Linked DNA regions of Homo sapiens. The protein of the gene in region 2 purifies or fractionates together with the protein of the main gene of each other region. This does not show direct contact. Each region holds a gene or a part of one and is shown on either strand. Other genes may lie near its edges. The genes, in order: PCDHA7 and RAET1L.

Region 1 (3,916 bases), on a different chromosome or scaffold from region 2:
TAGATAAATAAAGGTAAGTATCCTACATAAATACGATGATAGTAAAAGCAAGAATATTGTAAGAGGTGCTAGAAAGGTACATCATAGTGTTATTGGAATTGGAAAAAAATCTTTGCCTTTTTCCCTTGTTGAAGGAGACCGTGAAGAGTCATGATGTTTTACTGGTTATAAAATGGAAAGAGTTTTCCCTGGGAGAATATGGAGACTAACAGGTATTCATGAGAAGAGAGTAACTTAAGTGAGTATACAGAAAATTCCAAATGTACCTAGAAATGAGGAATAGTCCACTTTGGGTAAAGCACATGGTTCCCATAAGAGAGAGTGTGATATAAAGCAAGAAAAGTAATATGAGAAAAACCTTTTGTATAACTTTGAGTACTAGACGAGTAATTTTGACACTCTTCAAAGTCATTTGAAAGCTGTCAAAAAGTGTGAAGCAATACGAATAAAAAGTATTAACGGAAGATGACTGCAAGGATTAAATGAAGGAGAATGAAATAGGAATGGACAGGTTACACAATAAGAAGCTACTGCAATACACCAGGAGAGCAGCAATTATAAAAACTTATTTAGGAAAGCATCTGAATACAGACATAATTATTTTACATGCCATTGGGAACATTGGAGTGAAACATTCCAGAAAACGAACACAGTAAGGTAGATCCAAAAAGGATGAAATACCTCAAGACTTGATCAAAGGGCTGCTGTATGTGAGATGGCTGAGCACTGAAATTTATCTAATAAAATAAACTTACATTTTAAAAGAAATAATACAAATCATATTTGAGATTGTAAAAATAGGCATATATTCATAACACACAAGTGTTCGAAAGGATAGAATGAGGAAACAAATATAAAATGATGAACTCCTGAAACAGTATATATAGATTCTGCTAAAGCAAAAAATTCAGAATACTTCCTCCTCAAAAAGTTCACATGATACAAATTCTTCCCCTTCAAAGATTCCCCAAACCTTCTCTTATTTTGTTTTCCCAAGAGAAGTGTCTGGATAGTTGCTAATGTTTCTTGCCTCCTAAAAAGAAAACACACACACACACACCGCTTTCTAAGTTTCTCTTTCATCAATCAGTAGATTCTTGAGATCCTGGGTCCCTAAAAGAGTACAGGATTTTTCTTAACAAGCGATACTGAATCAAGAATATGAAGTTTCCTGGGATCTAGATCAAAGGAATTTAAACTTGCAGTTGTTTAAATTCATGTTGTCACTTAGGTTTCTATCTTTATTTAAAACTGTGTGAAAAAAAAGTTTTTCTAAGGCATGAGGAAGCTACAGTTCTGGTAACACTGAGTATTCAAAAGCCATCAGTCGCCTAAGAATGCTTCTAACAATCATGAGAAATGCTATTTTAACCTTTAACAACAATGAAGAAAAAAATTCAGAGTTTGAAATAAAACTTTTCATCTGATTAATAGTTTGTAATGGTTTGTAATTCTTACTTACATGATGGCCACATGATGTCGCTCTTTACCGCAAATTCTTTCGTAATCAGCAAAAGGAAGTCATTCCTTTTCGCACTGGAAAGACGCTCCACTCTCTTTCACTCTTTGGATGCACAACAATGGCCACACATCGAGATTGAAATGAAGGGATAAAAACATTCCTATAAATTCGAAGGCAAGTTTTGCTGACTAGAAAAACAAGCCAATAATTTGAAATGGTGTGCCCGAATGGATACGACCCAGGGGGCCGACATCTACTGCTGTTTATTATAATTCTAGCAGCTTGGGAGGCAGGGAGAGGCCAGCTCCACTACTCGGTCCCCGAGGAGGCTAAACATGGCAACTTCGTGGGCCGCATCGCGCAGGACCTGGGGCTGGAGCTGGCGGAGCTGGTGCCGCGCCTGTTCCGGGCGGTGTGCAAATTCCGTGGGGATCTTCTGGAGGTAAATCTGCAGAATGGCATTTTGTTTGTGAATTCTCGGATCGACCGCGAGGAGCTGTGCGGGCGGAGCGCGGAGTGCAGCATCCACCTGGAGGTGATCGTGGAAAGGCCGCTGCAGGTTTTCCATGTGGACGTGGAGGTGAAGGACATTAACGACAACCCTCCGGTGTTCCCAGCGACACAAAGGAATCTGTTCATCGCGGAATCCAGGCCGCTTGACTCTCGGTTTCCACTAGAGGGCGCGTCCGATGCAGATATCGGGGAGAACGCCCTGCTCACTTACAGACTGAGCCCCAATGAGTATTTCTTCCTGGACGTGCCAACCAGCAACCAGCAGGTAAAACCTCTTGGACTTGTATTACGGAAACTTTTAGACAGAGAAGAAACTCCGGAGCTTCATTTATTGCTCACGGCCACCGATGGAGGCAAACCCGAGCTGACTGGCACCGTTCAATTACTCATCACGGTACTGGACAACAATGACAATGCCCCAGTGTTCGACAGAACCCTGTATACGGTGAAATTACCAGAAAACGTTTCTATCGGAACGCTGGTGATTCACCCCAATGCCTCAGATTTAGACGAAGGCTTGAATGGGGATATTATTTACTCCTTCTCCAGTGATGTTTCTCCAGATATAAAATCCAAGTTCCACATGGACCCCTTAAGTGGGGCAATCACAGTGATAGGACATATGGATTTTGAAGAAAGTAGAGCACACAAGATCCCAGTCGAGGCTGTCGATAAAGGCTTCCCACCCCTGGCTGGTCATTGTACAGTTCTTGTGGAAGTTGTGGATGTAAATGACAATGCTCCACAGTTGACTCTCACTTCCCTGTCTCTCCCTATTCCAGAGGACGCCCAACCAGGTACCGTCATCACATTGATTAGCGTGTTTGACCGAGATTTTGGAGTCAACGGACAGGTTACCTGCTCCCTGACGCCCCGCGTTCCCTTCAAGTTGGTGTCCACCTTCAAGAATTACTATTCATTGGTGCTGGACAGCGCTCTGGACCGCGAGAGTGTGTCCGCCTATGAGCTGGTGGTTACCGCGCGGGACGGGGGCTCGCCTTCTCTGTGGGCCACTGCTAGCGTGTCCGTGGAGGTGGCCGACGTGAACGACAACGCCCCGGCGTTCGCGCAGCCCGAGTATACGGTGTTCGTGAAGGAGAACAACCCGCCGGGCTGCCACATCTTCACTGTGTCGGCGGGGGACGCGGACGCGCAGAAGAACGCGCTGGTGTCCTACTCGCTGGTGGAGCTGCGGGTGGGCGAGCGCGCGCTGTCGAGCTACGTGTCAGTGCACGCGGAGAGCGGCAAGGTGTACGCGCTGCAGCCGTTGGACCACGAGGAGCTGGAGCTGTTGCAGTTCCAGGTGAGCGCGCGCGATGCGGGCGTGCCGCCTCTGGGCAGCAACGTGACGCTGCAGGTGTTCGTGCTGGACGAGAACGACAACGCGCCGGCACTGCTGGCGCCTCGGGTGGGTGGCACTGGTGGCGCAGTGAGAGAGCTTGTGCCGCGGTCTGTGGGCGCGGGCCATGTGGTGGCGAAGGTACGTGCAGTTGACGCTGACTCAGGCTACAACGCGTGGCTTTCGTATGAGTTGCAACCGGTGGCGGCCGGTGCGAGCATCCCGTTCCGCGTGGGGCTGTACACTGGTGAGATCAGCACGACACGAGCCCTAGATGAGACGGACGCACCGCGCCACCGCCTTCTGGTGCTTGTGAAGGACCACGGGGAGCCCTCGCTGACAGCCACAGCCACCGTGCTGGTGTCGCTGGTGGAAAGCGGCCAGGCACCAAAGGCGTCGTCGCGGGCATCGTTGGGCATTGCAGGCCCAGAGACCGAGCTGGTGGATGTCAACGTGTACCTGATCATCGCCATCTGCGCGGTGTCCAGTCTGTTGGTGCTTACCCTGCTGCTGTACACGGCGTTGCGGTGCTCAGCGCCGTCCTCTGAGGGCGCATGTAGTTTGGTAAAGCCCACTCTGGTGTGCTCCAGCGCGGTGGGGAG
Region 2 (3,916 bases):
CCTCAGTTATACAAAGTTATGCCCATGGCTCATAGAACAAAGGGGTCCAAAGTCCAAAAGAGATGGAAACCCACCCCGGATACTGCTGGATTTAAATAATTACAAGAAACAGAGATAAACCAAATCAGGAGGCTGAAAGTAGCCAGTCCATCAAGAACGAGGCTGCTTTGCCTAATTTGCAGAATGAAGCCACTTCTCAGACCCTGAACCCATGACTATAAGAAGACACCAGTTTCTAGTGAGGAAGGACCCTTTAACCCTGCAGCCAGGACAGTGAGTCCTTGTGGCCTTCTCCAGAGATATTTATGGCCAATAGAGTTTGCTGTGAAGGGCAATTTTGTAAACATGTAAAGGTGTTCAGGGAATATATTCTCCATTGTAACTACTCAACTCTGCTGTTGAAGCTCAAAAGCAGCCATAGACAATCCATGAATGATGAGCGAGGCTGGACCTACCTTAAGTGCCCAATGACCCAAGACCCCCTAAGATCCTAGAGGTACATGTGGTCACAATGTCTAATTGGAGAATCACAACAGAGATTCCATGTGAATATTCAGAGACAAGGCAATGCCACTCACAGCAAGGAAATCGCAACATTAAGCAGTGGCTCCTGTAGAGTACTGCACCTTGGCAGAGATGGGGCCTTTTGCCATGCATATAAAGAAGGCCCCATGACAAGGCACCAGAATGGAATGAAGCTTAGGGATGCCTATTCCTGAAGGCCTCAGAGCTGCCCATTACTGGTGGGCTCCTCGCCCTCTAGGTCATTAGGAAGATAGGCCCAGCAGTGAGAAGATGCAGGTGGTTCTTCTGGGATGGGCAGGAGCAGGGCCACCGGGAACCAAGAAGTTGCACAAGCAGTTGGACCTGATCCCCAGGACACCACGTGGCTGCACCCACTCACCCTCAGCTCACACCTGAGGCTTCAGGGAGGGTACCTGATGGTCCCCATGGATGCCACTCAGCACAAAGGAGGGGAGAATAAGCCCCCAACTATGGGACCCCCACTCCCATCACATCCACACCACCCAGAAGCCACAGGCAAGGTAGGGCCACCTTCTACTTTCCAACTGACATCAGAGACATCACTTGGAGATGACACCCTAGGGGATGGGGCACTGGGACACTGTAATCCCCTGATCTGGGATCAGCAACCTAGGACAGGGTCCAAATCTGGTCCCCCCTCTTTGAAGGTTGCCATTGCCTGCTGTTGCTCTACAAAGGGACAGGACTGGACACAGAGACGGAGAACCCATGGCCTGCAAAGATCACAGGGCATCCTTCCTCCCTTTCTAGAAAGGGTTTGCTGACCCCTGTCTACACAGTGACTATTCTCTATGACGCTGACACCCCCGTAGGAAGAACAGGCGGTCTGGGCCCCAAGGGCAGAAGTGGGTGCCTCTACTCACCAGAGTTCCCAGGGTCATCCTGGAGGAAATGGTGCTTCCCATCCCCCCTGCACAGGTTCTGAGGGGAGCTTGGGGTGTGTTTGTTGGGGTGTGTCCTCAGGCAAGAGGCAGAAGGTGCGACGTGGTGTAGGAGGTGGTGAGGTACCCTTCATGGATGGGGAGACCTCAGGGGTGACCAGCTGGGCTGAGGTGGGCAGTAAGAGGATGTGACCTGGGTGGTGGCAGTGGATGGTGAGGGGAGGGGTGGCGGGTATCTGCTGAGCCCCTGGGTGCAGGTGAGTGTCTACAGGAAAAGTGCGGGGAAAACAAAGGCAGGGAGTCCTGGGGGTGCTGGAGGGTTTGTGTGGTAGAGAGCAGGTGAGAGCAGAGCAGGCTTGTGGCTGGTGGGGGCGTCTGTGATTGTATCCCTGTGGTACCCCCCTTCACCCAGTCCTGACCCCAGCTCTGTTCCCGGGGGGGCTCTGGTTTCTCCTTCCGAAAGGCGGGTGGGACTGCCGGGCTGCACTAGGAATCCGGGCCCCACCTAGCCCTCGCAGCCCTCTGGCCCCTCCACCCTCCTGCCAGCCTCGTTTTCACCCTGCTCTTTTTCGCCCCTACTGGGGCAAGAACAGCCTTGGGGAGTGGACCCGGCGGGAAGGAGCCCAGGAGGGGAACTGAGCTGGGGGCGCAGTTCGGGGAGATCTCCCTTGTCCTTCCAGAAGCCTTCCCTCCTCTGAAACCCGCTGCAGTCCACAGTCCCTCAGGTTTGGCCCCCGCCCCGCTTAGGCTCCATCCACCAGCTCACCGTCTCGCCTAGCCCGGGACCAGCCGAACAGCAGGAACAGAAGCGGGAGGCACAGAAGCAAAGCTGGGATGGCGGCTGCTGCCATTGGGGACCAGGAGGGCTGGGGACAAGAGATTTAATCAAGGTGGATCCTGGAAGATGAAATCACCTCTGTGCTGAAAGGCTGGCTTATATACTGTTAGTTACTGGGGAATGTACCGGGGAATGAGTCACCTCGATTCTGAAAAGCCAGATTTTAATGCTACTGGGCGTAGTCACTGGGCGCGTTCCACCTCTTCGTTTCATTGTCTGGACGAAATCCAGTTTCCATGCTAGTGTCCCTTCCCTTCTTCACCCGCTCCGGCAGCTTGGTGGCCTCGTGCCCGGGCCCCACTCCTGCCAGGACACGATTCCTTCCACGACAGACTCATTTAATCATTATAGCATTTTTTATTAATGGTGAAGAAACGTGCAGAGGAATATTCAGCGGCCTCGGCGTCTCCTTGTCCCCGCCTGGGTCCGCGGCACTCTCCCTCCTTCCGCTTGCGCCGCGGGGTCCCTGGCTCACCCCGCCCTGGGCACAGCCATGGGCCTGTTCGCGTCCCCTCCACTACTTCCCCAGTCCCCGGTGGGCGTGGTTACAGTCCGGGCTGGGTTTTATTTTTTATTTCTTTATCTATTTATGTATTTGGAGATGGGGTTTCTCTCTTATTGCACAGGCTGGAGTGCAACGGCCCGATGTCGGCTCGCCGCAGCCTTGTCTCCTGGGTTCAAGCGATTCTCTTGCCTCAGCTTCTGGAGTAGCTGGGATTACGGGTGCCCACCACCAAGCCCGGCGAATTGTTTGTAGTTTTGGTAGAGATGGGGTTTCACCTTGTTGGCCAGGCTGGTCTCAAACTCCTTTCCTCAGGTGATCCACCCACCTCGGCCTCCCAAAGTGCTGGGATTACAGGCATGAGTCAGCGTGCCCGGCCTGGGCTAGGTTTTATTACAGAAACAGCAGGTAGGGTTTCAGAGGTTCAAAACAACATATTGTATAGTAAACAATTGGTGAAGATGGTAAATTCTATGTTCTATGTTTTTACCAAAATTAAGCAGCTTTAAAAATTATCTTAACAATTTATGTCTTGCTTCTGCTTCACCCAGTGCAGACTGGCCAAAAGGCTGCTCATTAAAATCGAGGACAGCATTGAGGACCTCATCCCTAGAATCTCAACCTGTGACACGCTTGCTGATTTAGAAAGCTCCTCAGAGAGATTACCTCTGAGCTCCCAGTTCAGCAGCCGCCCTGGCCCAGGTCCACCGATGGCACAGGGGGCTCAGCAGAGCAGGTTCAACTGAAAGTTCCTAGTGGTTCCCAACTGTCAGCGCATTCTGCTGGCCTCTTCCCCCTGGGCAAAGAGCCAGCCATCCTTCAAAGCCGGGCACAAATACCCCCTCCCATGTGTGTCCTGCATGTTCCCACAATACAGAACACCCTCCTGCTCCCTGAGACCTGGGTTCACAGTGGGTGCATCCAGATCTCCCTGTGTGACAATTGCTCACACATTTCTTTGCCTCTCTGCTAGAAGCATGAGGTCTTTGAGAATATACTACATCCCTTCCTAAAAAGACCTAGTGAACAACTTGCTCAATCATGTAATCAATTGTGTTTCCACGAAGAGCAGGAGCCGAGGGAGGAGTCTACACACGTGTGGGGTTCACTTTCCAGCACACCAATCCGTGGCCAACCACACCTGAATCC

Evidence for each region.
Region 1: the proteins of RAET1L (region 2) and PCDHA7 purify together in Homo sapiens (affinity purification with mass spectrometry; one large-scale study listed by BioGRID and IntAct). This does not show direct contact.

What each region holds. Positions count from the first base shown.
Region 1 is NC_000005.10:140,832,708-140,836,623, forward strand, and holds the start of PCDHA7 (protocadherin alpha-7 isoform 1 precursor), read left to right. Parts: upstream 1-1,561; 5' UTR 1,562-1,676; coding exon 1,677-3,916. UniProt on the Homo sapiens protein: Calcium-dependent cell-adhesion protein involved in cells self-recognition and non-self discrimination. Thereby, it is involved in the establishment and maintenance of specific neuronal connections in the brain.
Region 2 is NC_000006.12:150,023,194-150,027,109, forward strand, and holds the start of RAET1L (UL16-binding protein 6 precursor), read right to left. Parts: upstream 2,340-3,916; 5' UTR 2,279-2,339; coding exon 2,194-2,278; intron 1-2,193. UniProt on the Homo sapiens protein: Binds and activates the KLRK1/NKG2D receptor, mediating natural killer cell cytotoxicity.